Homo sapiens: one gene and its partners. The protein of the gene in region 4 purifies or fractionates together with the protein of the main gene of each other region. This does not show direct contact. Each region holds a gene or a part of one and is shown on either strand. Other genes may lie near its edges.

The links.
Region 1: the proteins of WWP2 (region 4) and AMOTL1 purify together in Homo sapiens (affinity purification with mass spectrometry; 5 studies listed by BioGRID and IntAct, with this or other methods). This does not show direct contact.
Region 2: the proteins of WWP2 (region 4) and AMOT purify together in Homo sapiens (affinity purification with mass spectrometry; 5 studies listed by BioGRID and IntAct, with this or other methods). This does not show direct contact.
Region 3: the proteins of WWP2 (region 4) and FAM168A purify together in Homo sapiens (affinity purification with mass spectrometry; 5 studies listed by BioGRID and IntAct, with this or other methods). This does not show direct contact.

The regions. Positions count from the first base shown.
Region 1 is NC_000011.10:94,771,024-94,778,966, forward strand, and holds part of AMOTL1 (angiomotin-like protein 1), read left to right. Parts: intron 1-7,943. UniProt on the Homo sapiens protein: Inhibits the Wnt/beta-catenin signaling pathway, probably by recruiting CTNNB1 to recycling endosomes and hence preventing its translocation to the nucleus.
Region 2 is NC_000023.11:112,837,371-112,845,636, reverse strand, and holds the start of AMOT (angiomotin), read left to right. Parts: upstream 1-4,805; 5' UTR 4,806-5,185; exon of another isoform or gene 5,186-5,429; intron 5,430-5,686; exon of another isoform or gene 5,687-8,266.
Region 3 is NC_000011.10:73,412,741-73,420,683, forward strand, and holds part of FAM168A (protein FAM168A), read right to left. Parts: intron 7,260-7,943; coding exon 7,134-7,259; intron 1-7,133.
Region 4 is NC_000016.10:69,933,316-69,941,258, forward strand, and holds part of WWP2 (NEDD4-like E3 ubiquitin-protein ligase WWP2), read left to right. Parts: intron 1-654; coding exon 655-814; intron 815-2,537; coding exon 2,538-2,671; intron 2,672-2,996; coding exon 2,997-3,137; intron 3,138-3,802; coding exon 3,803-3,923; intron 3,924-4,232; coding exon 4,233-4,337; intron 4,338-5,711; coding exon 5,712-5,808; intron 5,809-6,025; coding exon 6,026-6,098; intron 6,099-6,525; coding exon 6,526-6,625; 3' UTR 6,626-7,943. UniProt on the Homo sapiens protein: E3 ubiquitin-protein ligase which accepts ubiquitin from an E2 ubiquitin-conjugating enzyme in the form of a thioester and then directly transfers the ubiquitin to targeted substrates.

The DNA of each region.
Region 1 (7,943 bases), on a different chromosome or scaffold from region 4:
CAGTGCTGCATTTCTTCATAGTAATTTGTGAAAATGCTTTGAAAATGATAAAACAAAGACTTTTGAAAAAAATAATTAATGACATGAAATGGGAATTGCTAGTGAAAATTGTAAAAGTTTGATTTTTCAGGCCAATAAATTAAAAAGAAGTAACTTTATAGGACCTGCTAATATTTCTGATATATAAAATTCCCCCAAAGTAACCTTTTCTATTTTCTTTTCTTTTTGGCGGGGTTGGGGGGGGGGTGCGGTGTGTGGCTATCTGCATTTTAAATGCATAAGGAAGCTCAGGTCAGAAAATTCTGCAGTGTTTTGAATAATTTTTCTCCTATTTTTCATTAATTTTGGCAGGTTCTTATGACTCAGAATTTAGTAGGTAATAAAATCCTCGAAAAGCAAGGGGTAGTGTGGAGGTCAAGTAAAGGGAGATATTTGATTACAAGGTTTGTTGGAAATAGTCTGAGGTTGTTGTGGTTTTATGTTTTGTTTTGTTTTTTTGTTTGCCTAGTGATTTTTTTAAAGTTAATTTTGTTGGCTTGGCTTTGTTTTGTCTTGAAGGAGAGGTACAATGTAAATCTTGGCCATTGTGGGTAGGGCAGTCCTCTACTTTTGCTGGAAGGAAGCCACTCCTGCTCTTGGTTTATGTGTTGGCATCAAGCTGAGTTCTACTTTAACTTGTGAGGCCCTTGGCTCTGCTCTCACGGCCAGGCCTTGTGTAACCTTAGGGTATATTCATTTTGGACACTCAGGACAGGACTCCTGGACTCCTAAAGGGGCTCACACATCAGGCATTTTCCCCCCATCTTTTAGGAGAGAGTAGGAGAGTAGCTCTAAGGTGTTGGAAATGTATCCCTGTTAAGATACTGAAGAATTAGATTTAAGTTTTCAAAAACTGTCGTTCTATGGTGTGTGTTTAAACCTGTGTTTGAGACCTCACTGGCCAATATTGCAGCTATATACCTCTATTTTTTCATTTTGTTTTTAAGTAAAATGTCTGCTGTTTACTTTTAACTTTTCGTTTTGAAATGATCATAGCTTCATAGGAAGTTGCAAAAATAGTAGAGAGGTCCTGTGTACCCTTCACCCAGTTTCCCCCATTGGTAACATCTTACATAACCATAGTACAGTAGCAGAACCAGGAAATTGACATTGGTACAGTCCACAGAGCATATTCAGATTTCACCAGTTTTACATGCACATGTAAAATTTGTATTTCTATGTGTGTACTTCTATGCATTTTTTCATGTGTAGATTCATGTAACCGCTACCACAATCAAGGTACAGACTATTTTATTACCCCAATGATCTCCCTTATGCTACACCTCTATAGTTGCACTGGCCCTCTTCTCCCCATCCTCACTCTGTTGCTAAATGCTTAGCAACCACTACTCCTGTTCACCATATCTATAATTTTATCATTTTGAGAATGTTACATAAATACAATCATGTAGTATGTGAGCTTTTGAGATTGGCTTTTCACTCAGCATAATGCCATGGGGATCCATCCAAATTTTTGCATCTCTCAATAGTTTGTTTCTTTTCATTGCTGAGTAGTATTCCATAATATGGATGTACTATGGTTTGTTTAACCATTCACCTATGGGTTTTTTCCAGTTCATGACTATTTCACATAAAGTTTTTATGAACATTTATATATAGGTGTTTGTGTGAACATAAGTTTTCATTTCTCTGGCGTAAATGCCCATGATTGTGATTGCTGGATTGTATGGTAAGTGTGTGTTTAGTTTTTTAAGAAATTGCCAAACTTTTCCAGAGTGGCTGCACCACTCCTATTAGCAATGTATGAGAGATCCAGTTTCTCTGCAACCTCACTAGCATTTGATGTTATCACTATTTTTTATTTTAGTTGTCCTAATAGGTGTTCTAGTAGGTGCTCTAATCTTACCATGGTTTTAATTTGCATTACCCTAATGGCTGATTATGTTTAATGTCTGTCTTTTTTATGTGCTTATTTGCTATCCATATATCCTCTTTGGCGAAATAACTATTCATGCCTTTTGCCCATTCCCTAACTGGATTATTTATTTTACTTTAGAGCTTTAAGAGTTCTTTATATATTCTAGATGCAAGTCCTTAGTCAGATTTGTGGCTTGCACATATATTTTCCCAAGTATGTAGCATGTCTTTTTATGTCCTTACCAAGGTCTTTTGCAGATCAAAAGTTTTTTATTTTGATAAAGTCCAGTTGATAGATTCCTTTTTTCTTTAAGGATGGTGCATTTAGTGTCACATCTAAGAACATTTTGCCTAGACCCATGTCTCAGACATTTTCTGCTGTGTTTTCTTCTAAAAGTTTTATAGTTTTACATTTTATTTTTAAGTTATAGTTCACTTTTGTCTGTCTTAAGAGTTTGTATGTCTTGCTGCTGAGCTTATAAACCATCTATTAGGTCTCGAATATGCACAGATGGACTATCAGGTGTAGTTCCCATTCTGAAGTGCTCACAGATTAGGGGTGTGGCATGTGGACATTACCATGTGTTACTACTATGATGGGGACACATGTGATGTACTGTGGGTGCTCTGAGGAGAGAGGGCTCACTTTGGTCCAGGCGGTCAGGGAGGGCTTCCCTGGGCATGCTGCCCAACCATGGTGGGAATAAAATTGGTTTGCTTTTGATCCAGTTTTTAGATCTTTATTGCCATGAATTCTTTAGAGTGTGTTACTCTGATTCTTGAGCACATGCTGATTGAGTTGGCATAAACTGAGTGGTTGAGGACCTTTTTGAACAGTACATGGCATGATAGCTTAAAAGAAGGTGAAAACACAGTACTTAAAACTCAGTAACATAAACAGTATGAATGAAGTTGAATAGATTAAGAGTTATGTATATGTTAAAATGAAAAAGGAGAGGTAGTATTTTGGATTGAGAACAGGTGTATCCTGGCCCTGCCGCCTCCTTGCTGTGTGACCTCGGAATTGTACATGCTGAAGCCTCATGAGTAAAATGGGGAAAATAATAGTTCTTCCCTCATGGAGCTGCATGAGGGCAAAGTGAAGCAATGCGCACAATGCTGGGCACGTTGAAAGCATTCAATAAATACCTGCTACCATTATTATTACTAAAACAGCAGAGAAGCAAAACACTTTATAATGTTACGTAAATTCGCATGTATCCGTCTTCTTTGAGAACCTGGAACCCCTGTTCTTACTCATGGAAGTGTTCCTTTTCACAGTTGGGAGCGCTGTGAATACTACTTAGTGAATGAGATAGAAGCTAGGATGCCCTATTCACAATCTATTACTATCTATAAAATAAACCTTTCTTTGCTTCTATAAAAGTATGATTTCTGATGAAAGAATGATTTCCTCTGTGCCCTTGAGCACAGGAGGCAGGAGGAGGTGGGTCTGCATTCAGAAGGCTAGTTCAGAGTTTATGGTGCTTGGTACTGTAGGTGCAGTAAGTCAGGGCTGATGTCACCAGGCCGTGTCTCAAATTTCATAACTGGCAGCTCTGTTTCCTTCTTGATGACCAAGTTGTTTACTTCTCAGAGGAAATTAATTGGGTCTTAGATGTACAATTCCAGGACAGTTGTTCTCAAATGTGATTGAGCATCAGAATACCCCAGAGGGTTTATTGAAACATGGATTGCTGGGCCGCACCCCTAGAGTTTCTGTTTCCTTGGTTGATTGAGGATAGGGCCTAAGACTTTGCATTTCTAACACGTTTCCAAGCAATGCTGATGCTGCTGGTACTGGAAACACATGTTAAGAATGACCATTTTAAAACATAGCCCCTTTAAATTGGGCCTGGACTGAGATGCTTACCCTTTGGAATGGAGTTTGTTCATCTATAAGTAATTGAGTTTGAAACAGATCTATTTCTAAGGTTATTAGTTGATATAGCTATATTTCTTCCTCTAATCACTCTTCTTTTGTGCCTCACTTTCCTGACCATGACTTTTTCTTCTATCATTTGTCTCTCACTCCTTGGAAGACATGCCACAACTGGGTATATGGCTACCATATTGCCTTGGTAAATCACTTAGGCTCTATAAAGTAAGTGTATTTACTAAATATTTATCTTCTAAGGTTATTGTGTGGCTTAAATGACATAGTGAATGTGAAAGAGCTTCATAAGAAGTGAAATTTTGTGTAAAATAGTTTTCTTAAAATTATTTTCTGCATCATCAGTATCTTTTTGGAGCAGTGTCTCTGACTGACGGTAAGTTTCATTGCTACTTGGGGGACTTGGTAACGATTGCATAGACATATGCAGGGACCATGGACATACTCAGGGACATCATGAAGAAGGTTCCTGCAGTGGATGGATGGTTAAGCTAGGGTCTGAGTGCCTTCCAAATGGAAATGTTTTGGAGGCTGATTGATAAATAGTTGTAGTAAGGACCAAAGGAGAGCCCAGTGCTGGAAAATTGCTTGAGCAGATGTTGAAATATTAGAGATTCAGCTTCCTCAGAGTAGAGAAATATAACTCTGTGACTTTTTTTTTTTCTAGCAGTTTAGGACAGATGTGATCTGGCCCACATCTATGTTTTTAAAGTTCTAGACCTATGCTGTCTGTAGTAACCACTAGTCACTTGTGGCTATTTAAATTAATGAAAATTAAACGAAATGAAAAATTCAGGACCTCAGTCACACTAGCCACAGTTCAAGTGCTTAATAGCCATTTCCATCACTGCAGCAATTTCTGTTGAGGAGTGTTGTTCTATAGTGAGATTGGCTCTGTTGTCTGATGGCAACACCACTGGGCTTCAGATGATAAGACAGGGACACATTTTTGAATGAAATGTACCACATCTCCCTTGGAGGGCTGGTATGAACTGATTGGGAATGCTCTATTCACTTGAACCCCATTTTACCACTTCTGTTTTGGAGGCTCATTCCATTTGAAAGCTGGGTCAGCATGGCAACTGGGTTATGCTGGCGGCAAAGCTTACCAGGCCATTATCAGGAGATGTCTGCTGTTTCTAGGGATGTTCCACTCATGGGATTCTTCCAGGGATCTGGTCCTTGAGAGAAGCAAATAGAAATGCTTGGGTGGAATTAGCACGGAAAGGTCCTCCTGAAGAGGACCATCAAAGGTCATCCTGAACTTCTCCACCTTGGATCCGTTCCACTGTTGAACCAAGCTTTGTCAATGAGAGGCAGGCAGCTGGCGCTTGTTCATCTCTCCAGTGTTTGCACATGCTCAGATACCATTCCACACTTCATCATCCTATTGTCTCCTTTGAAAGTGTTCTGTAAACTGTAATAAGGTTCATCTCCTTGCCCACCCTACATCCAGTCAGTCTTTAGGTCCTGCAGTTGACCTCCAAAATACTTCTTGCATACTTTCCCTTCCTTTGCATGTCTCTACAGCTAAACCAGTTTAAGGGCTAATTACCTGTTTCCTGGACTATTGTGATAGCCACTCACATAACAGGTCTTCCCACTTCTGTTTTCTTGCACCTCTTCTGACCTACTCTGTCCTTCCTTCTTTCCCTGCTTCCTCCCACCTTTCCTCCACCCTTCTCAGAATAGGCCCAGCAAGACAGGGATGATAGATATCTTGTCTTCCAAGCTTGCTTTGCTTTCTCTTTGTGAGGTAGGGCTCTGCACACGCCCTGTGGCCACGTGCCAGGGAGGAAGGAGGCATCTCACATTCAGCTGCTGCTTCTCAGCTGTGAGGGCTGCTCTGGGTGGTATGACCCAGCAATGTGACCCCTGACAGCAGGTGTGAAGCAGGCCTTTTCCTTTCTGACACGGGTGGTGTTCTGGAGGGCTCTGAGAACCAAGTGTTTTGTGAGCAAGCCTCCTCTATCTGCTGGTCTTGGGAAAAGTAGAGAATATGAAATCCTCTGGTAAGGCCCTGTTTCCTGAGGGACTGGCTCCTAAATATCACTGCAGTTATAGGTTGATTACTCATCCTGGTGATGTGGGAAAGGTTGGAACATAGAAGAAGGGCAGACAAAGAGATTAGGAAATGTGCTTTTTATGGAAATTACTGGATGCAGCACTCAGTGCATATCATTAAATTCATTGCAGAAAAACACATGTAAAACCAATCTAGCTTCTTGAAAAGAGAAATGGTCTAATGGTCTTTTTATCTAAAAGAGCAAAGAAAATGCCTTCTGAAATCACAGTAAGCTTCAATTAAGACACCTGGGAAAGTAATTTTAAAAGCATCACACAACCATTTATACAAACATTGAAGATAATGGCGGTGTCAGGTTTGTTTAAACTAGTAGGTTTGTTAAAGGACATAATCCTGTCAGGCTTATCTTCCCGTGGTATTGACTGGCCTGGCAGATCAAAAATGAGTGGTAAGTGGCATAAAAATGGTGAATAAATATACCTTAGCTGACTTTTAGAGTTGATCCTGTATGATAGTCATCAAAAAACTGAAGAATAGAGTCTAAAAAGTCTACTTTGAGATATATATTAGCTTAACCCTGAGTTGAGGCATTACATTTCCCCAAATTCTAACATTTCTTACTTTCAAATTTCTCCAAAATAAATTCCAGGAGTTTGGAGAAAAAAATTGAAATAAAGACAAATATTTACATTTTAATGACATTTATTAAGTGACTAAAATAACTTTATTAGTTTAGGAACAAAAAATGGGTTATGTGTAATTGTTTGTTCATAAAATAAAATACTGAATTTCTTGTATTAAATTTAGTAATTTATTTAGGCAGTAGTCACAATTATGCTAATTGAATTTACTTTGAATATTTTCAATTTCTCTTATAGAAGAGACATTAGGGAGCATGACATTTCTTATTTTGGACAGAATATAAATTAGGCAGAAATTTGGATACAGAATCACTCACTCCTTAAATATCTGTTGAGTGAATAACTCTGCTTTGTACAAGTCAATACTGAGGTGGAGAATTTGATGGGGTTACAATAAAAGGATATATAGTTCATCCATCTGATATTTGAGGGTCTGTCATGTGCCAGGAACTGGGCTAGGTGTGGGATATATATCCTTTGCTCCCCATGGAATTCATATTCTATAAAAGGAATGTAATGTATTAAGATGTTAGAAAACAAAAGACAAATGAACTGGGTTCGTTCTGCTCTAAGAAGAGAAGAAAGGATTCATAACTGTCTTTCAAGTATTTATTTTATTTTCACTTTGAAATGAGCTTAAATCACAGATATCATGACTTCTACAAGCTTAGAAGAGTTCTCTCCTGGGGAGGGTGGATAAATACAGATTAGGAGGATATGGAGGGCAAAGAGGCAACCAAAGAATTAATAGAAGTGTGGGGGTATCTTACTAGAAATCTGCTTAAATTGAGAAAATATGATGTAATGTCCTGCCTGATGGTGGGAAGAGGACCCTAATAGGCTAACTGTGGTGTGCCCTTTGGATATCTTTTTTTGATTTCAGTAATTATCTATGGAGCTTAATGGTTAAGACTCCAGAACTGGAAACCTGTATTCACACCCAAACTGTGCCACTCACTAGCTTTATAATCTTGGCTAAATTACTTAACCTCTCTGTCAAGTAGAATTTCCTCATGTGATATATAGGGATCTTAATTACACCTACCTCAAAAAATTGTTAGGAGAAATACATGCTGGGTATAAGAGCAATATCTGACACATTGGAAGAGTTAAGTGTTAGTTATCATGGTTGTTGCAGTTACTATTGCAACATTTTATTATGCTTATAGATTCTATGGGTCTGGACTTCAGGCAAGGCACTGTAGGATGCCCTGTCTCTGCTCCATCATTCCTGGGACTTCTGGGGCAAGAAGACTGAGAGCGCATGAGTGGTTTGTGACTGGATTCACATGTCTGGCACCTGGGCTGGGATGACTTGAAGGCTAGGTCTGCAGACCAGAGTGTCAACAAGTTGCCTTTCCACATGGCTTGGCTTCCTTATAGGATCGGGCTAGTTAGAATCTTATATGGTGGCTTAGGGTTCCAGGTGTGAGTATTCCCAGAAATTGGATGGAAACTGCATTGC
Region 2 (8,266 bases), on a different chromosome or scaffold from region 4:
GGCCTGCATTTCCCTGTAGTGGTGATCAGGCTGCCCCTTTCACATGGGTTCTGCCTTCTTGCAACCCCTATCACTGGCATTGTCTCCTGACACTAAGCCTAAGGGTTATTAGCTTTTGTGTGTGTGCATGTGTGTTTGTGTGTGTGTGTGTGTGTGTGGTAAGAGATACGTAACAAAATTTACCATTTTAACAATTTTTAAGTGTACAATTCAGTGGCTTTAAGTACATTCAAAATATTATACAACTATCACCATTATCTAGTTCCAAACCTTTTCATCATCCCAAACAGAAATTGTACTATTAAACACTAACTTCCCACTCCCTCTTCCTCCAGCCCCTGATCACCACTACTCTACTTTCTATCTCTATGAATTTATCCATTCTAGATCCCTCATGTAAGTGGAATCATACAATATTTGTCCTTTTGTATCTGGCTTATTTCATTTTGTGTAATGTTTTCAAGGTAGACATTTGATTTTTTTAATGGATTTTATTTTGTACAGCACAGATATTGATTTTTATTGTGCAATAAAGGTGTATTTTAAGAAAAAAAAATAAAGGCCAAATAGGACAGGTAGTTTGGGATGTGGAATCTTGACTTCTGAGCTTAAAATGATCCTCCTTTTTTCCATATCGTTATATGGAGGTTTTTAATGTGTAGTATCTAGGCAACCCAGTGTCTTTACACAGGTGTTTTACAGCTAGTGGTTAATTCTCCTGGTCTCCCCCAGAGGGCTTTCTATACTTTATAGTCAGGATATGAAGACACAGGGATGCTGTGGGGATTAGTTAAATGTGTGTGGCACAGTGTGCTGTATAAACTAACTCTCTGGAACTAGTTTTCACTCTCTGCTCTTAACTTCCACAGCTTTTACTGTCAATACCATTCATTTGGCACTTAGCACATGCTTGTTAGTTGTCTTTTTATGTTTATATCCTTGAAGGCAGGAGCTAAGTCTCATGCCTCTTTGTTTTTTCAGTCTTGTCTATAATAGCGGCTCAATCGATGTTTGTTGATGTTGGCCTCCCCCTCCCCCTCTCTTTTAAGTAGTGCAGGCAATGCACAGCTTTAAATCCAAACTCGGTTTAAACAAACTGAAAGGTTTTCAGGGTGAAAACAAAGAAGTCTTGCATGGCAGGATAGAAGGCTTGGAAGACCTGGGTTAAACAGAAGTACCAAAAAGCTGTTTGCCACAGGTTAAGAAATGACTCACACACAGCCTGACTCACCATTAAGTTCAGAGTTCTGCTAACTCTACTCCATCAAAATTTGGAGAAGAGTAATGCCCAAGCAGGGTTTGAGGAGCGGATGTTAAACGAATTAAGTGTTTTAGAGGTTTCCATTGCTCCAATTCCATTGCTCCACAGTATAAGTCGCTGTGGGGAAAGGAAAGCATGTTAGAAAAGTGTTTTGAAGGCAACTTCAAGGCTAGGGGCAGGCATACTACAAATGAGCCACCAGGCCTTTGTTACCAGGATTTTTTTAAATAGCATCTTCCGTAGTAGCAAAAGATGGGAAATAGCCCAAATTTGCTTCCATTTTTTTTAGAGATAGAGTCTTGCTATGTTGACCAGGCTGACCTTGAACTCCTGGCCTCAAGGGATTCTCCTCCCTCAACCTCCCTAGTAGTTGGAACTATAGGCGTGTGCCACCACCGTGTCTGTCTCCCAAATCCCCATTTAATAAGGGGATGAGTAAAGGAATTTTGGCACAGCTATGCAATAGAATATTGAGTTATAATAAAATAAATAAGGTAAACATAGTTATCCTGAGATGGAAGAATATTTCAAATACATTGTTGAGTAAACAAATGCAAGGTGTGCCTTGATTAATGATCCCACTTGTAAGGAACAAAAAGGGAATATGCACTCATGCTTGAATATGCAAATAATCTATTTGGAAGATGACATACAGTCATAAAGAGAATGGGACTATGGGAGCAGAGTGGTGGAGAAGAACTTTTCACTGTAGTCTTTCAGTACCTTTTTGTTTGGTGTTTTTTGGTTTTTTTTTGACGGAGTCTCGCTCTGTCACCCAGGCTGGAGCGCAGTGGCCGATCTCAGCTCACTGCAACCTCCGCCTCCCAGGTTCAAGTAATTATCCTGTCTCAGCCTCCCGAGTAGCTGGAGCTCAGTGGCTGATCTCAGCTCACTGCAACCTCCGCCTCCCAGGTTCAAGTAATTATCCTGTCTCAGCCTCCCGAGTACCTGCTACTACAGGCGCATGCCACCACGTGCAGCTAATTTTTGTATTTTTAGTAGAGAAGGGGTTTCACCATATTGATCAGGCTGGTCTTGAACACCTGATCTCAAGTGATCCACCCGCCTCAGCCTCCCAAAGTGCTGGGATTACAGGTGTGAGCCACCGTGCCCAGCCCAGTACCGTTTTATCTGAATTCTTCCATGTGCATGTTTAACTTTTTTCACTTGGACAGCATTGATTTTAACAAATATCCTTTTGCCTCTGTGATTGGTAGTAGTCCTGCAGCATATACCCGCCCCCCCACATCTAGCTCTCCTGTCCACTCCAAATAACAAGGCTGAAATAACCTTTCCTTGCTTCACAAACCAGGTGTCTCCATATTTTGAACATTCAAAAACTCACTTTCTCCATGAAAAATCACCCAAATAACCTCACTTCATACATAAACAGAATCATAACGAGAATCATTTTGTGCACACTCCTGCTTCTGAATCTTTCCACAGCTCCTAGCAGAGCATGCTGCACACTCCATGACATGCAATAGTCCACTACTTTTCCTGCAGAGTTGGATTCTGAGCCCCTGTTTACTGTGTGATAGTGTTTCCTTTAAGCACACTTCCTCTTGCATGCCTTGATCCATGGCCCCCCAGATGGCTCCCATTAGGCAGGCTTGAATTGGATGTCACTCTTTCATTGGCATGAGCCATTATAATGGCCTTGCGCTGTCAAGGCGTTTACATTTAGGCTTGCTTCCTACTTGAAATGTTTTCTAGGAAATATGGATCTGTAGAGAATGGTGGTTTCCATGGTAAATGTTCCTTCATATTTGTTTTCTTAAGTTCACTTCGGAGATACACAGCATGATTTCCTCTTTCAGTACCAGAACCACAATAGCTTTAAGTTGTCATGAAATTGTAGAACTTTAAAAAAGAAATCTCACCCACCCTGCTTAGAAAAGGGGTAATTTATTATTCTAACTGCAGGGAGTCAACTTCATATCCACCCCCAAAATTGTAGGAAAAGAGTTGACTTTTTAAAATAAAGCCACAAAACCTACACGACCTTGGATGTAAATGCTTAAAACAGATGAGCAAAATATTGATCCTCTAACACATCTAAGACTCTCCATTATGTTTCACACACAAGTAGGAACACATACATGTGTGGAGTGCTTTATAGTTTTCACACACATTTTATTTTCATACCAGTGCCTTTAAGTTAATAGGGCATGTCTTACAGCATTTACTTACAGGTAGAAAAATTAAGGCTGAGAAGTTAAGCCACTTAACAGAAGTCATACAATTAGCTAGTAAGTGCCAGGGCCCCAAATGAATTCTTCCTTTGGTTCCAAATTCCATGTTATTTTGCTACCCTGACACTGTTTCTTTGTGCCTTCGTTTTTCTAGATGTAAAATGGTAGATTTTCCGTGTCCCAGGATGCTGTTCTCAACCCTCTCGTTTTTAACCAATGTCAGCTTTTTTCACAGTCAGCAGAACACCACAATGACACTTCATGTACTTTCCCCCCTCCTGATTTAATAAACTAAGGGGGAAGAAAAGTTACCTATTCGCAGAAAGCTGGACAGTGCCATAAACATAAAGGCGTACCAGAGTCGGCCGACACACTGTTGCACTCTTTTATGAGACTGAGAAATAAAGCGTCTCATCTTTCTCTTGCCAGCAGTAGCTGGGGTAGAACATAGAACTACACAATAGCCTCTTGTTTAGTTTTATTAATTTTGAGGGCGGGTGGGACAAAGGGATCAGACTGGCGACTCCAGGGCCCAATCGCAAGCGTATACTAGGCCAGGCTGGGCCAACCGGTAGCTGCAAAAGAATGGTGGGCGGGACTTACGCTTCAGGGACGCGCTCCGCCCAGGCCGGCGCTCCCAGCCCGCCCAGGGGCGGAGCCTCCGCGGAGCGCCGCCCGCGACCCCTCCTCCCTCGCCCCTCAGCTTCTGCGGCCCGCCAACGGGAGGGGGGCAAGCGCCCGGGGCGGGGGAGCGGAGGAAGAAAGGAGGGTGTCTCGCAGAGCTGTGACCTGGGTGGGGGCCTGCTGGTAATAGGAAGCAAGAGGGGAAGGAAAACGAAGGAGCGCTTCTCCTTCCTGCATTATTTTAAGCAGGCTTTGGTGGAAGCTGCTTTTCAGCATTTCTATTATTTGTTTTTCTTCCTCCCGCAGTGGGGCGGGGAGCTGCACTGGCTCTCCCACGCGTCTATGCCGCGCTGTTGCCGCAGATTATTATTGTAGTCTTTTGCAAAACCCTTTCCTTCTTCCCAGCCAGTCCCCGCGCAGACTCTCACGGCTACGGCAACCGAGTCGTGCCCCTCTAGTGGGAAGGCGAGAGCGAGGGTCCCTTGCTTTCGCCCGAGCTCCCGGACCCCGCGGTTCAATTGTTTGAAACTTCCACGCCCCCCGGCCCCGCCTCTCTTCCGCGCTCCCCTCACTCCTCACTTCCAGGGTCCAGGCAGGCTCCCGCCCTTCTTTCCCCGCCCTCTACTCCGCCTTCCTCCCTCGTCCACCCCTCCCGCCGCCCTGCTCCGGGGCGGTCCTAGCCGCTCACCGCAAGAAGAAAAGCCACCCGTTCGTCCCCCTCCCCTACCTCCCATCCTTTGCCCAGGAGCTGCCTTGGCAGTCACGCCCCTTCCTTCCGAGGAGCTTTCTGGCTGCCTAAACTGGTAGACCCCCTGAATTACTCCTCCATCTCCGCTCTCTTTCGCCTCCTCTTCTCTTAGTTCTCTCCGCCTCCCCCTCAACTACCACCACCTCCAGTCAGTCTCGCCTCCGGCTATCCGCTGCTCCACCCTCTGGCCCGGTATCCTGCCTGTCCGCTGCCACCAAGGAGAGCCCGGACGGAGCAGCGAGGAGGGGAGCAGCCGGGAGTTGGGGCTTCCCCCCTGCCCATCCCTGGCCGCTGGCCCGGGACCGAAGCCACTTGAGCGAGCAGAGAGTCGTCACCTTGTCTTCTTTGCCTTCAGGGGTAGGAGACGCGTGGTTACTTTTCGCGGGGAACTGGGGCAGGAATCCATGGTGGCATGAACTTGGTCGTGCCCTCGGCGTGAGTGAATCGATCTAGGCGCGTGTGGGAATGCCCGTGTGTTCTACTTTCTTTGCAGCTCGCCATGAGTTTTTTTGGATGTGCAGCAAGTTAAATCGGTTAGAGTGTGCGCTGCTTTCCCGTCCTACTTCGGTGAGGAGATGCTAGTGGGTACCACTACTAGATGGTACTTTTACTTCTTTACCTCCTGGGGTTCTTGTGGGTCTCTAGGTAATTAATCACATTGAGGAGCTAAAGACCCGAGGGAAGCTGAAATCTACATTTAGCCCAGCATGCATGTCAGTGCTTATCTCAGATAACTAGATAGGTTTCTGCTAAGTGCTTAGGCTTGGGGTGGGGACTCACACTCCCTGAGGCGGGAGCAGGAGGGGTAGGACCGTGAATTCTTGAAGTTTTAAAGTCTGTGTAATCTAAAACAAGGCTACTCTTTGAGATGTGTGGTGGTGGTGGTAGTGCTTGTGGTGGTAGTGATAGTGGTGGTGAGGAGGGAGTTGCCCCTATCTGCTTTAGAAGATCCAAAGATGTTAGTAAATAGTTTTGGGGGATCTTGAGGGTGTCTTGAGGGTCCAAGCCTGGGCCACTGCACATTGGTGCTTCAACAGTAAGATGGGCTTCATGGGTTTGTGAAAATGAAGAGAAAGAAAAGGGGGAGGGAAAATAACAGTCTTTAATAGACTGTGAGCAGTTCCTGGTAGATTGCCACTAATAATAATATAATAATTTGCATAAAGGGACTAAGTAGAATTAAATGAGCAAGGAAAGAGAAAGTTGGTGAGAAACAGCATTTTCAATCTCTAGTGTATGTTTTAGAACGAACTTTTCAACAACCTGGGATGTTTAGTGCATGAAGTTCTCCTCCCTCCCCGCCATGAAGAGTGGACGTTGGGAGGCAGTTTAAAACTTTTATGAATATAACCCTCTTCTCCCATTCAGAGAAGAAGATAATTAGTCACCATAATCTTCAATGATGAAGGGCTAAGGATATTTAAGTCTCCTTGAGCTAGGCTTTGTGAAAAGTTCTTTCTCAGGCCAGCCTTTGTGAAGCCTTCTCAGTTAGACCTTTCAGCACCCTCATTTAGTAGCTAAGAATAGTTTGAAATGCCATTTTGGATGTGGTATACATTTTCATCCATCTCCCACCTATCTTCAATTGGACAAGTGCGTCAAGCCTGTAAGTGATGGTGTTCAAAGACTTATTACTGAGATGTCCTTAACCCATTGCTTATTTGGGAACACATTATTAACATACATTTTAAAATAACTTTGGTTGATTTTAATGAGTGAAAGGAAAGTAGGAAGGTAGAGAAGGGCGACAATTTTAAAGGCTATCCTGTTTCAGATCAGCTGGGAGGGAAAAGCTGGCCTGACCAAACTACATTTTATAACTGGCCTGGGACATTTTAACAGCCAGGTGGTTGTAGAGTAGTTGCCTCTATTTACAGATGATAACTAAGGTTCCAACTATTCTGTATGGGTTTATCCGGCGTCATTGACAGACACTTTCTGGCACTACATCATACTTCATTTTAAATTACTTCTTTCCTTGGAAAAGTTCGTGGCTTTGTAAAATTGTAAGTGCTTTTTCTACCTTCACAGTCTAGATGTGAAGTAAACCTCTGACCACAATTGTATGTGGAGTCACTTTTACATGAAATTTGTGGATCTGTTTACCTATTTAAAAGATTTTAGAAAGGGAATTTTAATAATTCATAGTCAATGCAGTTTTGGATTTGGAAATTAAAATTTCATTTCTGGTTTATGAAGTTTGATTTATTAGACTAATTCCCAACAAGGACATTTGTAGAGTTGCTTTTTCTTTCTGAGGTTTTGTAAAGACTGCATCAGACTCTAGAATGCTTTAAGAATAGCCTAATCAGAAGGCAGGGGGATGGATACTATGACCTTGAGGTCCCATTGAGTGCCAGAATTCTAAGTGGGTACATCTGCTTCTGTGCCTCTCCCAAGAGCCCTCTCCCAGGGCCTGCGCCTTCTTTAAAAGGGTGTCTTTGTAATTAAGCGGCCCTTCTTCCCCATCCCCCTTTCTTCCTTTGATCCAGCTTTTTAAGGCCTTTTTTTCCATTTGGAGACAAGAGGGGTTTCTCACACTTTCCTGTTCCCCTCTTAACGCTTCTTTTCCTTTACCCCAGAAAAGTCCCCTGAAGTTCTCAGGATGGTTAGAAGTTGTTTTGTTTTGTTTGGGGCGTGGGGGTGGAGTGGGGGAGTTGTTACCAATGAGGAGGAATAGAGGATATATTCCCTCTTGGGAAATGCTTGTGACCAGGTAGCCTCCTCCATGGAGACTGAGCATTTGGAATGCATGAGAACAGTCTATTCTTGGGGACTGTCTGGTAGAAATTGTCCTTTGCACCCATTAAGCCCAGCTTAAACACTGAAAGGGGTGGGGAGAGGTGTGTGTGGTCGTACTGGAGCCTTTTAGGATGGTAAATGGGTAAATGTTTCCAAATCTCCTATTACATCATCTCTTTCTCCCATGGATTCAGTAGGTTTAGTGATCTGCTTGACAAGTTAATTAGCTGGGGACTAAACCAATTTGTTTAGAATTGTGATCCATTGATTTCCTGTCCCCAGGAATTTTTGTTGGTGTTTTACTATGATGTGTTGTCTTTAGTCTTACTTACTTTTCCCTCCTTGCTGCCTTTTGTGGACTTTGGTCCAAATTCTAGGGTTCCACCCCCAAGTCAAAGGTTAGAATTTTGTCCCAGGAACTAAGGGGGTATTAAACAGGCTGGCCATACTGCATTACTCTCCTCCATGGTGGGCTTCTGACCCCTTTTAACCCAGAGAAAGGAGGGAAGTCGCCCCTTCCACACACAACACACACAATCTGAACAAAAAAAAAGAAAAAGAAAAAGAAAGAAAGAAAATAGGAGGTCATTTGCTTTATAAAAGAATCCACAACAGGTTTTCTTTGTAAGTACTAGCTTTCCTAGTTAGTGCCTTTAAACTATGACTTGATATATAAAAATTCACTCTAACTGGGCC
Region 3 (7,943 bases), on a different chromosome or scaffold from region 4:
CTGAGGTGGCTTCTTTCCTGTGGTTCCATCTTGGGTAAGTCTAGCAGACCTCACTGAACCTCTCTGGGCTTCAGCTCTTTCACCTATAAGATGCTCACCAAGGACCCTTTCAGCTCCGAGGTGCTGTTTCTATCATATAATAAGGGACTAGGGGCAGAGTGGAGGGAGTGCTTTATTGGAAGAGAAGACATCTAGTCTTCAGTCCTGGCTTTCCCCCTAATTTTTCATGACAATTGTCAAGTCTTTGGGCCTTAGTTTCTTATTTTGTAAAATCAGGTGGCTAAGAATGAAGATCTCTTCCTAAACAAAAATTCCATGGTTCTAAAGATCCTGGGTCTCTTCTACCTTAACCCCAAGTAAAAGCAAACTACCACATGGTCACAAATCTTTCTCAGTCCACATCACACCTCTTTGGCTTAGCACCCCCCTGCCCCTGATGACTCAGGAGGATAGGAGAGCTGCTGCACAGCTGCCACAAAAGTCAGCCTGTTCCTGGATTCACGTCATTTATTTTTTCACCTGCAGATCCATAGTTTTTTCCATAGTTTTGTGATCAAATATGCTTGGGAAATAAGTAACAATGAGGATAGAATGGAAAGTACATATGAAAGAGAGGGAAGCATGTTAAAGAGAAGTAGAAACTAACTGGAAGTGCAACTATGAGCTGAGTGAGAAGTCTAGAGCAGATTTCTCAAAGTTTCTAGATTATGGAGCTAATGATGAAATGTGGTCATAGGAGGAGAAGCAGATACTGTGGGGGAAGACAGGGAGACTAGCTTTGCAGATGTCTAGAAGGAACCATCTGATGTGTACGGAGACACAATTTACTTATCTATAAAATAAAGGGGTTTTATAGATAAACCAGAGATAGACATTTCCCAAATGTGGACAACGTACTATAGATCCCAAGGGATCTTAATAGTTGTTTTTGCCAAAGAAAAGGAAACAAAAGAGTTCTATAGTCCCATATGTAAAATAGAGATAAACAGTTAAGATTTTGTTTTTATTCCATGACCCTGAGAAGTTTTTAAAACAATAGGATGGGCTGGATGTGATGGCTCTCACCTATAATCCCAGCACTTTGGGAGGCCAAGGCAGGAGAAGCACTTGAGACCAGGAGTTTAACACCAGCCTGGGTAACACAGACAGACTACATCTCTAAAAAAAGAAAAAAACTTAGCCAGGCATGGTGGCTGGTGTAGTCCCCAGCTACTTGGGAGGCTGAGGCATGAGGATGGCTTGAGCCCAGGAGTCTAAGGCTGTTGTGAGCCATGATCACAACACTGTACTTCAGCCTGGGTGACAGAGCAGGACCCTGTCTCTTAAAGAAGGTGGGGAGGTGAACTGTGAATCTCTAAGATGGGAGTATGTACAAGACTGTATTTTCCAAATTAATTTTACCACAGAATCTTTTATTCATACTATAAACATTTAAAACAATTAAATTTCAGCCATGTTTTTTGTAATTGAAGCTAGTTTTGGTAAACAAAGTTATATTGTAACACATCCACATCCATTCATTTACATATTGACTAAGGCTACTTTCCTGCTACAATGGTAGTCACTGACAGAGAGCATATGGCCTTTTTAAAAGCCTAAATATTTGGCCCTTTACAGGAATGTTTGCTGACCCCTAATTTAAAGGAATATATCAAGGTGTAGAGAAACCTAGCAGAGCTGAAAGCATCCCTTTTCTATGCAGGAGAGTAGGACACCCCTGAATCAGAAGGTGCCTGTTTCTGAAAGCTCTGTAGCACAGAGCCATGGTTATGAGCAGTCTGGAGACAGACTGACTGCCTGGGTCCAAACCCCCAGCTCTGAGACTTAATAGCTATAGGATACATCAGTCTCGCGTGTGATATGGGAACAGTAATGGTACCTACTTCATTGTGATAAATACATTAACTGTTAAGTAAAAAGCACTTAGAACAGTACCTGACATATTAGAAGCACTTTATAAAGATCAGCTATTATTATTTTCTCTCTCACTTTATAGGGACAGTAAGCTTCTGTCCTAAGGGTATGCAGGCAGAGCCTGGTCTGAGAGACTAAAGCTAATCTATGACTACTATGGTCTGTCCCAGCTTGGAACACAGACTCCAGGATTCTAAGATTCTAAAATGTTATGGCTTAAAATGCCATGATTTTATGATTCTTTAAAGTTAACAGGCCAAAGATGCTGATGACTTTCCTTTATGCTCCTGGAGAATGTGCTCTGGAATTTTTCTCTTCCCTGGGGAAGCTGGATTACCCACTGTATGCCACAAGGACAGCCATATTACAAAGTGGTGAGACTATCCCTCTGAGGAAAATCAAAAAGCTCCAAGAGACTGCAGTAGAATTTGGTTCCCACATCTAAGAATAACCTTGTCTGAGAATGTTTCCCTTTCTTCATGTTATGAAATGAGACACACACATACTCAGAATACAAATCAGTAGCCAAAACACCCTTGGCAGCCAAAGAGATGATGCTGCAGAAGAAGGCCTTGCTTGTTTGTCCAGACAGTCTGAGATAGAAGCAGAACTGCAGAGCTAGAAGACTCAGAGATCATTAAGACCAACGTAAACATTTCACAGATGAGATAATGAGTAGTTGCTGAAAGAGAGAGCTGTTTGTGGGGATCTAAGACTCAGTGCTACTTCCTCTAACCACAGTGGTTCTCAAGGTTACCATTTGTCAGGAGGATCTTCATGAGGCTGGAGAAACTGCCTGGGGGCCCTCATCCTAGGTTCTGTCAGTAAGTCAGGTCAATTCCTCTCAGGGAATATCCTCATTTGGACTAGACAGTATCAGAGAACTTCTCTAGTGCTGACATTCTAGGTCTCTGAGTATTTCAGAAGACTTTCATGAGGAAATCATTTCAGAGGACTTTCCATAATTTACTAGTGGTCCTGTCAATACTCTTGAGGAACACTGAAAATTCCCCTGGAGCTATAGCCTGAGCTTGGGTGACACAAAAATCAGGGTTTATTACTTTATGCATCTAAGTAAAAGAAGCTGTTGGGCTTGTTGCAAAAAAGTCTCACAGATTTTGCCCAAATGAACTTAGACTCAGTTCACTCACTGGAGGCCTGGCTATCCTGAAAGGAATTCTAAGTCTGAAGGTCACAGAATTAAGACTTTGGAATGTTGTGCCTGAAGGACATTAGAGGTTTATATTCAACCTCCTCCTTTTCCGAGAAAGAACCTGGAGCCCAGAAGGACAGATTTTCCCCAAATTGTACAGCACATCAGTACACAGCTAGGCCCAAAGTTCAGGGCTCACCCTGCCCTAGGCAGAGCTCTTGCTGAGTTAAAGTCTCTGTAGTCCAATCTTGGGCATTTAATATACTGGCCTTTGTTGTCCCCATTTCACTAAAGGCAATATCATGAAAGAAAAAATGAATTAGATCACTCGAAGTCCCAGCTCTGCCTTATAAAAGAGGCTTTGTTTATGATGTCCTATTCTTTCTCTTAGGTTCCTAACCATAATTTTAGAATCAAATGGGATAATAAAAAGAGTATGTACATTAACAAGATAAAACCTTTTCAGCGCTTTCTGCAATCCTTTTTCACTGTCATAAATCTTTTTCAGTTGTAGAAGCCCTACCACCTTCAAAGGCTTGATCCTTGCATCACGGATGCCTTTTAGACTAATTGGTTTATTGATCATCAGATTTATATGTCTGGACAAAATAAAGCTCTATGTCTGAATCTTGCTTTGACCCCTAAGACTCCTTGTTGGTAGCCAAGTGAGACAGTGATGAATCAGCAGGAGACCTAATTACAAACAGGCTTAGCAAGTATCAGTGAAATTGAACTGAATTTGTCAAAGTGCCCTGAATTTTCTGTGGTACTAGAAGCCACAAAATCTGAATGCTGGGAGGAATCTTTTTGAGTATGGGAGGGCCAGTCAACCCCAACTGCATTAAAAAATGGCACAGGTTTATACATTACTTGCTTGAAACAGAGGTAGGCCAGGCATGGTAGCTGGTGGGCAGACAGCTTGAGCCCAGGAGTTCGAGACCAGCCTAGGCAATGTGGGAAAACCCCATCTCTACAAAAAATTAAAAAAATTAGCTGGGCATGGTTTTGCATGCCTGTGGTCCCAGCTACATGGGAGGCTGCGGAGGGAGGATTGCTTGAGCCTAGGAGCTTGAGACTGCAGTGTGACGTGATTGTGCCACTGGACTCCAGCCTGAGTGACAGAGCAAGACCTTGTCTCAAAAAAAAGGTGGGGGTGGGTACATTTTGGTCTTTTTCAGGGACTGTGATAGCCTGTCTGGGAGGGAACAGTGGGATGTGGCTGCTGGACACTTAATGGGATTTCAGGAAGATTTCAACATAGTAGAAGGCAAGGCCTTCTGTTACTCAGACTTCCTGTGGAAAGGGTTGCCTCTGAAGGGAATGAGTACTCCATTTTTGGAGATGGTTTGTTGGCCAGCTAAGGGCAGCTAGAGAGGTGGTCCCTGTTGGGGTGGAAGACGCTGAGTACACATCATCTTGCTGAGAGATAAGGAGTCTAATTGCAAGAAAGAACCTTGGAGATGATTTAGTTCAGTTCCCTCATTTTGCAGTTTGAAAAATCAAGGTCCAATGCATGGACATCAATTATCCAAGGTTACACAGAACCCAGTCTAGAATTCAATGCAGCTTCCACTCCAGGCTGCTTTCTGCTACACTACAGTAGGTGTGCCTATATGCGTCTATATCCAGATGTTTAGATGTAAGAGAGAACATGTATATCCCTATTTTTATATATATATAATCTTACGTATGTTCATTCATTCTACCTGAGGTATCTGGAGAAACTCCTTATGGCTGACATACCTCTCTCTCTTTTTTTTTTTTTTTTTTGAGACGGAGTCTCACTCTGTTGCCCAGGCTGTAGTGCAATGGCGCAATCTCGGCTCACTGCCAGCTCCGTCTTCTGGGTTCACACCATTCTCCTGCCTCAGCCTCCCGAGTAGCTGGGACTACAGGCACCCGCCACCATGCCTGGCTAATTTTTTGTATTTTTAGTAGAGATGGGGTTTCACCATGTTGGCCAGGATGGTCTCGATCTTCTGACCTTGTGATCCGCCCACCTCGGCCTCCCAAAGTGCTGGGATTACAGGTGTGAGCCACCGCGCCTGGCCTGACATACCTCTCTTAAAGAGTAAAATCAATCTCATGAGAAAAGTCAGTAACTGAATCTTAACCTGGGTGATACCTTTTTCCGGCTGTGCTGCTTACTAGCTGGGTGGCGTTGGACCTATTACCTTTCTAGGCCTCATCGTTCAAACTGGGATGAAAATCCACCTAAATAACTTAGTAGACTGAGTGTAATGTAGATTAAATGAAAGGGTGATTATGAGACTATATTTTACAAAAGGTGAGTTACGTTGTATAAACATAAACTGATGTTGACATCTAGGGGCAATGAAAACTTGAGAAAATGACATTGGATGTTGATATGGTTTAGATGTTTGTTTCCTCCAAATGTCATGCTGAAATGTAACCTCCAGTGTTGGAAATGGGGCCTGCTGGGAGGTACTGGATCACAGAGGTAGATCCCTCATGATGGCTTAGCACCATCCCCTTGCTGATGAGTGAGCTCTGATTATTTAGAGTGTGGCACCTTCCCAGCCCCTTGCTCCCTCTCTCACCATGTGATATGCTGGCTTCCTCTTTTGCCTTCCGCCATGACTGTAAGCTTCCTGAGGCCCTCACCAGAAGCTAAGCAGGGGTTGGTACCATGCTTGTGCAGCCTGCAGAACCGTAAGCCAATTAAACCTCTTTTCTTTATGAATTACCCAGCCTCAGGTATTTCTTTATAACAACACAAGAACAGACTAACACAGATGTTTTAAAGAAAAGAAAAAAATACAATGAATTCTTCTAGTCTACTTACTTAGTAGATTAATAATTTGTGGAACCACACACTATCAGGCCTTGCCTGGAATATCCCTTTGAGGGCTTATCCAGCCCTCACAACTTAAGAGAGAAGTTCTCACCACATCCAAAGTCAGTCATTCCTCTATTGAACAGCTCCAACAAGACACAAAGTTCTTCCTTATATGGAGTCAAAATGCCACTCAGTAATTTCATTTTTTTTTTTTTTTTTGAGACGGAGTCTTGTTCTGTCGCCCAGGCTGGAGTGCAGTGGCGTGATCTTGGCTCACTGCAAGCTCCGCCTCCCGGGTTCATGCCATTCTCCTGCCTCAGCCTCCTGAGTAGCTGGGACTACAGGCGCCCACCACCATGCCCGGCTAATTTTTTTTGTATTTTTAGTGGAGACAGGGTTTCACCGTGTTAGCCAGGATGGTCTCAATCTCCTGACCTCGTGATCCGCCCACCTTGGCCTCCCAAAGTGCTGGGATTACAGGCATGAGCCACCGCGCCCGGCTGCCACTCAGTAATTTCTAAACATTGGTCCTCATTTCCCCAGTGGAACCACTTTGTGTTAAAAATTAGATGTGACGGTGACAACATCAGTTACCCTACTGAGCCTCAGGATGAATATGACCAGTCTGACTGGCTAGCTGGTTTCTGGCCTCCCTGAAGACTCCTCATACACACCTTGGTCCCACAGTGCAGCTTGCACTAGGGCAGTGTTTCTCATACAGAGGGCAATTTTGCCCCATAAGGGACACTTAGCAATGTTTAGAAACATTTTTGGTTGTCACAATGAGGCTTTCCTACTGGCATGTAGGGTAGAGGCCAGGGATGCTGTTAAACATCCTATAATGCACAGGACAGCGCCCCCACAACAAAGAATTATTTGGCCTAGATGTCAATAGTGCTGAGATTAAGAAGCCCTGTGCTAGAGGGGGGAGCCCTCTCTGTCCAAAGACCCACAGACCTTCAAAATGTGCCCTCTGTCCTTTCCCCCTAAAATGCAGTAACAGTCCTTCCCCAATCAACTTGTTGGCCAGGTGAGTATTTCCTTCTCCTTCCCTCAGTGCTTTGTGTTTCCCCAAAGCTGAGTGCATGATCAAAGAGAATGACCTTTCCTGAATAAGGAGGGGTAATTTTTTGCCTGGGTAAAAGAACCTCTTAAAACATTATTTATCTCATAAATGTCATTTTAAAAAGCTCCCTTTCCTTTCTTCCTAAGAAACAAATCAGTCCCAACCAAGGGGAACAAGGAAATGAGACAGGCTGTATTTACTGAAAGCCGCAGAGGATGCTTGGTAAGTTCGGTTCTCGGTCCCGGTGTCCACTGGGAGGTGGAAGGTGCCTTCAGTGCCACAGGAAGACGAGTTCTGTGGCCAGGCCTGTTTCATCAGCAGAGTTGCTTAAGGGAAGACACAAGAATGGCATTAGACAGAAATAAGAAGTGGCCACCACCAATCACAGACACAAAGCAAGGGTCTTGTGCTGGACAGAAACATACAACCCAAGGGGCCTGTTCAGACACATGGGATGGTCAGCCTTTCTGAGATGGTTGAGTGGGTTAGGAGGAGTGCTGAAGTATGTTTCCAAATGATTTGAAATCAAGGAAATCTGAACTTACACTAAAAGAGTCAGGACTTTCTACCTACTACTAAAACCACAAAGATGCCCATGAATAACCATCTCCTACTACCTGACACTGTGGCCTAGGGCTCTGGTATATTCCTCAGCCACTTTCTCATTAATGTGTAACAACTTGGGAGCCTTTGTGTGTCACCAGATCAACTGAGCACTCTTTGTTGTCTGAAATATCATCTGGAGGTATATTTATAAGCTGCTTTCAAAGACAGGCCCACAAATAATGACCACATTACATGAACCTTGCTGGACTACCATCTCTTCTGAAGGGACTGAGCTGTGGCCATGGTAGCTTAAAAGGCACTGGGCACTGTGCCACACCGAACCTAGTTAGCCAGTGGGGCACTCCTTGCTAATAACTCCTTCTCCTGTACACCCAGCTGAGGCCAGACAGACATACTTCTTGCATACCCCTGAATATCTCCTACTGAGGTGTTACTGGGTGCCC
Region 4 (7,943 bases):
AGGGCACGGGTGTTGGTTCAGATGAATGCGTGGAAGTGTGGGAACGGGGATGGTGTTGGGGTCTGGGGGTGAAGGGAGGGCAAAGTGCAAGAGTGTTGCATAGCTGGTGGGCATGAGGTTTCTCATCTGAAGGCAGCATGGATTACATTGTCATGGATCGGGGTTGGAAATGTGTTGCTGTGTATTTACGTTATGTTGCCCGCCCAGGTAGAGTGGAAACAGGGTAGTTACTATTCAAACAGAACCTTTGCAGAAAAATTATTGTAATAAACATGCATCGTGCCCTTGTGCAGTGCACAGCCTAGGCAACTGAGCATGGTGACCCAGGGTACAAGGACCCCCTTTACCATTAGAAGCTCTGGATATTGTGATGTAAAGTCTTGGAACACATCACCTGGGAGCCGACAATCACACGTTTTCCCAAATATCATCCTCAAATGCAGTTGCCGCCCTGGTTCACTGTAGGTCTGAGCCTGCCCTGTTCACTGACCAGCTGTTCATATAGGTTAGCCCGGGTGCTTGTCACAGGGCTCGACTCCCTGGGACACGTGTCCCCATACTAACCTGAGACACGATGGTGAAGAGACACAGCTCCTGTGCAGATGTGCACGAAGGGACCCATTATTCTTGTCTTTTCTGTCTCTTCCCTCACAGAGAGTGGTTTTTCCTCCTGTCTCATGAGGTGCTCAACCCTATGTATTGTTTATTTGAATATGCCGGAAAGAACAATTACTGCCTGCAGATCAACCCCGCCTCCTCCATCAACCCGGACCACCTCACCTACTTTCGCTTTATAGGCAGATTCATCGCCATGGTAAGGGGGCCCCAGGGGTCTGCCTAGTTCCCTCCTCCTCTCCCTCCTCTTCCCTCTCCTGGTGAAGTGTGCCAGGGGCACCAGGGGAATCTGCTCTTTCTCTGAGACCTCCAGGAAGGGGCAGCATTGGAGGAGGCCCTGGGCCTGTTCACCAGGAGGCAGCGTGGCGTGAACGGCAGCCCCCGTGGACTGGCTCACCCTCTCGGGGCTCCACCCTTTGCCCCCATAGAGCTCGTAACCTAAAAATGCAAGAAGCTAGAGAGAGTTCTGGAGAAACCAGAGCTTTCTCAGTGGCTGCCCTGTAGGTAGTGAAGAGTTTCCATGTTGCTTTGTACAGGACTTGTCAAGAGGGAGCCCAGGGTCGCTGGGCCACAGACTTTACTGAACATTAAATATGTGCTCTGTTGAGGGCCTTGGGATGACAGGGCCAGGTGAAACCATAGCTGCCCACCTGCTGCCTGTCTCTGGGAGGTGACACTGTCACGGCATTTGGGAATGTCCCACTGAGACACTAAGCCTTCTGGAAGGGCATTTGGAATCAACACTAGTGTAGAACAAAACGTAAAGTCTGTGGCCCAGAGACCCTGGGCCCCCTCTTGACAAGTCCTATGCAAAGCAACATGGAAACTCTTCAGTACCTACAGGGCAGCCACTGAGAAAGCTCTGGTTTCTCCAGAACTATCTCCAGCTTTTTACATTTTTAGGTTACCAGCTCTATGGGGGCGAAGGGTAGAGCCCAGAGAGGGCGCGCCAGTCCATGGGCGCTGCCGTTCACGCCACGCTGCCTCCTGGTGAACAGTAGACTGGCTGGTGCAGGGTGTAGGGACATCTGTCAGAAAGTGAGCCAGTTCTGGGGAGGGGCGTCCCAGCGTCTGTATTTAACTGGAAAGAGGGACACAATGTGAATATGGAAAGGGAGGTCCTGCCACGTGCCCCGTTGAGGGTCCTGGGAGCGTGGAGAACCCGGATTGAGAAGCGGAGCCCGTGGGAGGCACAGCGCGGGAGCCACATGCATAGCTGGAGATGTTTCAATTCTCCTTTCCTTCGCTTCTTCCCCTGCCTTCCTGAGTGTCCCACCCGGCTCCCCTCTTAGGAGGACCCAAGCGCCCCATGAGCCTGTGACTAAATATGGCCGGCCCTTCCCATCGTCGAGGAGTTCTTGGCCAAGGTGCTGGGCTCTGGAAATGGGCACATTCTTCCCAGGTCTAGAGACCCGCCTGGCCCAGCAGCCAGCAGGACAGACCGGTAAAACCCTAGACTATTACTCACCATTGGCCGCCAGCTCTCGCTGTCGGCGGTGTCTGCATTATTTTTGGCTGCCTTTGCCACCCACCCTGAGCGCCAGTGAATCAGGGCTGCCACCTGCAGCTGTTCAGAGCAAGCCTTTTCTGTGAGCGTGGGGCAGACCTTTGCTAGGCCAGGAGCCAGCCGGCCAGCGTGCGGGGCAGATGCGGGCCCGGACGTGGGTTCCCGCACCAGCTGGCTCTGCCCAGTCCTTGCGGTCTGCAGGGCAGGGTGGGAGTCCCTCTGTAGGTACAAGTCAGGATAAAGGCGTTGTTTACTCCTGAGGCCCTCCCGCTGCGTCCGAGGCAGCTGCTGCTGTAGTTCTGTCAGGGAAGGAAGGCGGGTAGCGGTAGCAGAGTTTGATACCGAGCATCTGAGAGCTGGTCTTGGCAGTGCCCAGGGAAGGCCAAACCTCTGTGCTGTGCCTCTTCCTTCCCAGGCGCTGTACCATGGAAAGTTCATCGACACGGGCTTCACCCTCCCTTTCTACAAGCGGATGCTCAATAAGAGACCAACCCTGAAAGACCTGGAGTCCATTGACCCTGAGTTCTACAACTCCATTGTCTGGATCAAGTGAGTTCCCTGCCCCCTTGCCCCACCGCGCTGATAGGAGGGACGTCTCTGGGTGGGAAGCAGGTACTGATGGCCTTTATTTTGTCTGCCAGTGTGGCCCCTGAGCTCTTTTCCAGCCTCTATAAGAGCTTGTGGAGAGGAATGTCCTCTGGGTTCCCTGGGGACAGTTCTAGAACCTTCTCCTTGAGTCAAGGAGCTGTCCCCTGTCACTGTTCAGGATTCTAGGCCACCTGTGGGCCCTTGGTGTCCCACGGGCAACAGAGCAGGATCCAGGAAAGACCCTGACACGGTAGACATCTCCCCACTTGGTCTCCTGTGCCCCCAGAGAGAACAACCTGGAAGAATGTGGCCTGGAGCTGTACTTCATCCAGGACATGGAGATACTGGGCAAGGTGACGACCCACGAGCTGAAGGAGGGCGGCGAGAGCATCCGGGTCACAGAGGAGAACAAGGAAGAGTACATCATGTGAGTCTCAGGCGCCGGGGGCTCCGCTCCAGGGGTGGCGTGGAGATCTAGTGGGTTGCAGAGAAAGATGGGCCCCCACCTGTGGCCCATCGGTCACTGTGGATGCCATTTGCATTTGCCTTGATGGTGGCTGCTGGTGGGCGGTCATGTGATGGCGCGAGCTGGGGGAACCAAAGCCGAGGTCCTTAGTTACCGACTCCCAGCTGTGCTTTTTCGCCATGTGGGAGACTTCAAGCCTGCAGCGTGGAATTTCTTTGAAGTGGCATCAAGCTGAGACATCTGCATCTTTCTCCGGGCCGAAAGGATCTCTGTGGCCTGTGTGCCTAGACCCACCGTCTCACGTGTGCCCGTTCTCCGTGCCTGTTCCTCAGGCCTCTTGCTTTAGTCTTTATCTCCACGCTTCCATACGTCTGAGGTTCAGTCGGCGCTGGGGGCAGGAGCAGGAGGAGGTGGTGGTGAGGATGATTTCAAAGACTCCGGTGTCTGCAGGTCACTGTGAGGTTTTCAGGGCCTCACTCTAGGTCCTCCAGCAGGCTGGGTCTGGGTGTGCGAAGTGGGCTCTGCTGATCTGGTGGTCCTGCGCGGTAACGGCCACGCGGCCTGGCCGGGAGCCACCCCTGAGCAGTGGGTCTCAGACTCCACCCATGGCTGCTCTTTGGTCTCAGGCTGCTGACTGACTGGCGTTTCACCCGAGGCGTGGAAGAGCAGACCAAAGCCTTCCTGGATGGCTTCAACGAGGTGGCCCCGCTGGAGTGGCTGCGCTACTTTGACGAGAAAGAGCTGGAGGTGAGTGTCTGAGGTTGCTGGGACCCTGAGCCCCTGCCTCTGGGGCGATCCTGCTCTGTGATACGCTCACTGTGTACCCACAGACACTCAGCGTAAAACTCCCACTTCGGCAGGGCAGATGGGTTTGATTTGGGACCCACCCTTCCCCAGACACTTGTTTCAAGAAAGCAGGGACTTACATTACCCATATTATTAACGCTGACACCAAAAATAGCTAGTTGAATATGTTTGGGGTAATGTCAAGTGCTAGCGAGTGGACGATGCGCGGGGAGGGACCTGCCGGGGATGCTGACTGCCGCCTCTCCCCAGCTGATGCTGTGCGGCATGCAGGAGATAGACATGAGCGACTGGCAGAAGAGCACCATCTACCGGCACTACACCAAGAACAGCAAGCAGATCCAGTGGTTCTGGCAGGTGGGTCCCGGGCCCAGGCCTTGGCAGGGACATTTGGGCCATCAACCAAAGGAAACGGGTCCTGAGGAGGCCTCACGCGCAAGGACCTTCAGCTTTGGCCCTGTCCTTGCCTCCCACACCTTGCAAAAGGAGACGATAGACCAGCCTTGGGATGAACGGGGACAGTTCCAGCTGAGTGGTGGCCAGTGGATGTGACAGGAGGTCGTCAGTGGTCAGCCTTGGGCCAGCTGGTGTGCAGGGACAGACCTGCAGGCAGACAGCAGCTGCCACTGGTTGAGAGGTCCCCTGCCAGCCAGATGGGACAGGAAGGCAGGGGCTTGGCTCCAGAAACCAGAAAGAGCTGTCATCCTATGTATAATTAATGTGTTGATTCTTTTATACGTATGGGTTTTGTTGTTGTCGTTATGAAATACAGCATACAAAAAAAAATAGCGATTACAGGTATTCTTAGTACATGTCTGTGTGCATATGTACGTATACAAATTTTTTGTGGAGGTGAAATTTGTATAACATACAATTAACTATTAATTTTTTTTTTTTCAATAGAGACAGGGTCTTGCTATGGTGCCCAGCCTGGTCCTGAACTCCTGGGCTCAAGCAGTCCTTCCATCTCACCCTCCCAAAGTGCTGGGATTACAGGCGTGAGCCACTGTGCCCAACCCATTTAAGTTTTTTAAGATACACAATTCAGTGGCTTTCCACTTTGGGTTCCTTGGCTTCCCACCCAGGCCGAGGTGGGCAGATCACTTGAGGTCAGGAGTTCAAGACCAGCCTGGCCAAAATAGTGAAACCCTCTTTCTACTAACAATATAAAAAATTAGCCAGGCATGGTGGTGGACACCTGTAATCCCAGCTACTCGGGAAGCTGATGCATGAGAATCACTTGAACCTGGGAGGTGGAGACTGCAGTGAGCTGGACCGTGCCACTGCTCTGCAGTGAGCTGGACCGTGCCACTGCACTCCAGCCTGGGCGACAGAGCAGTGGCTTCCAGTACATTCACAGTGTTGTGCACCTGGCACCACTATCTAATTCTGGAACATTTCATCTCCCCAAAAACCTTATACCCATTAAGCAGTCACTCCCATATTTAGTCATCTCTAAAAGCAGAACGTGGATGGGAAGAGAATACCCAGCCTGAGGTGTCCCTGAGACCCAGAGATGTCCCATGGACTGGTGGGAATCTCATGCACACACAGCCTCTTAGCAAAAGCACTTCTGGGGTTTCTCAGGTTGGAGGCTGTCATCCCCTGGCCAACCTGGCTTTGTGTTCTCAGCCCCAAAGAGGGGCCCCGCTGAGCTAGAGAGCTCCACGTTCGGGCAAAGTACTGGGCCCCGTGGGTTGCCTGACTGTGCCTTGACTTGCGGACTTCCAGGTGGTGAAGGAGATGGACAACGAGAAGAGGATCCGGCTGCTGCAGTTTGTCACCGGTACCTGCCGCCTGCCCGTCGGGGGATTTGCCGAACTCATCGGTATGTTTTCTCTCGCCCTCTGGCGTCCTGGCTGGCAGTGCGGACAGCTCAGAGGGAGGGGGAAACCTAGTCTCTTCCTGGAAGCACGTCAGTGGGATGGAGAAGAGCTGTGGCCTCTGCATCCTGGGGCCGAGCCCATCTGTGGGTGGAGCCGGAGGATCCTGCTTTGGGAAGGGACGTCTCTGCTGACGTCGGCGTGTTTTACCTTGGATCACAGGTAGCAACGGACCACAGAAGTTTTGCATTGACAAAGTTGGCAAGGAAACCTGGCTGCCCAGAAGCCACACCTGGTGAGCCTGCTGGTTTTAGTGGGAGGTCGGGGGGCCTCAGACCCGATGAGCTCCTGGGACAGCCCAGTGGGTGTAGCAGCTTCATAGCCTCGAGTCTGGCAGCTTTTGCGTGGCCCTGGGGTGTTGGGTTGGAGAGATGGGGCTGTGATGGGCATCTGATCTACCGGGTTTTACATATGAAGCACTTCTGTTCCAGTAGTCCAAGAGCTACTGCCCCAAGTGTCCCCCGCAACCAATTTCCAGCTGTCCTGGCCCCTCCCTTAACACCCCATGGTCCAGGCACCTGCAATGTGAAGGCCTGACTGGCAGCCCCTGAGCCCTAGCCAGTGTGGTGCAAGCCCTGTGGCCCTGCTGCAGGCAGGCATGGTGGGGCTATCAGAGCCCTGGCCTCCTAGGGCTGACTGTCGTGCTTCCCCACTCTCAATAGCTTCAACCGTCTGGATCTTCCACCCTACAAGAGCTACGAACAGCTGAGAGAGAAGCTGCTGTATGCCATTGAGGAGACCGAGGGCTTTGGACAGGAGTAACCGAGGCCGCCCCTCCCACGCCCCCCAGCGCACATGTAGTCCTGAGTCCTCCCTGCCTGAGAGGCCACTGGCCCCGCAGCCCTTGGGAGGCCCCCGTGGATGTGGCCCTGTGTGGGACCACACTGTCATCTCGCTGCTGGCAGAAAAGCCTGATCCCAGGAGGCCCTGCAGTTCCCCCGACCCGCGGATGGCAGTCTGGAATAAAGCCCCCTAGTTGCCTTTGGCCCCACCTTTGCAAAGTTCCAGAGGGCTGACCCTCTCTGCAAAACTCTCCCCTGTCCTCTAGACCCCACCCTGGGTGTATGTGAGTGTGCAAGGGAAGGTGTTGCATCCCCAGGGGCTGCCGCAGAGGCCGGAGACCTCCTGGACTAGTTCGGCGAGGAGACTGGCCACTGGGGGTGGCTGTTCGGGACTGAGAGCGCCAAGGGTCTTTGCCAGCAAAGGAGGTTCTGCCTGTAATTGAGCCTCTCTGATGATGGAGATGAAGTGAAGGTCTGAGGGAGCGGGCCCTGGGGCGAGGCCATCTCTGCCTGCCTCCCTAGCAGGCGCCAGCGGTGGAGGCTGAGTCGCAGGACACATGCCGGCCAGTTAATTCATTCTCAGCCAATGAAGGTTTGTCTAAGCTGCCTGGGTATCCACGGGACAAAAACAGCAAACTCCCTCAGACTTTGTCCATGTATAAACTTGAAGTGGTTGTGTTGTAGGGTTGCAGGTTTTTTGTTACGCTGCTGTCACTTTCTGTCCAGGAGCTGGCACCCCAGGTGTTCTGAGACCTTGAGGGACCCAGACCTTTGGGTCCAAGAGTTTCCCAAACAGCCACGCCTCTCAGGAACCCACCTGGCGGTTCCGTGAGCTCAGGCAGGCCTGACCCGGCGGCACAGCCTGGCAGGGACCTCGTCCCCAAGCCTGGCAGAATGAGAGGGGTTGAGGTCCCGAGCGCCACTCCTAGCCTTGCCGCCTTCAATAGAGAAGAAATCCCTTTGCTAGATAGGGTCCCCCAGGCAGTCCCCAGTGGCGGGACACAGGGGTCCGGCTGTGGAGCTCCCCTGCCAGCCCCTGGAGCTCCAGGAGGGCCTGTTGGTCCCCTGTTCAGAATGGAGTGCAGCCCGCCAGCGGAAAGTGTTCATTCTGCATAGGTGTGAGGCTTTATCTGCACACAGGACATGAAAACCAGCAGAAAGGCCCTGAGCTGCTGCATAGCCCCATCTGATTTCTGCAGTTCCCGCCAGCCTCCAACACGGGGACTCTGCCGTAACTGGAATCTTCATAGGTCATATTGAAATCTTCAAGGTGACCATGCCCCACCGGGGTGCTGGGG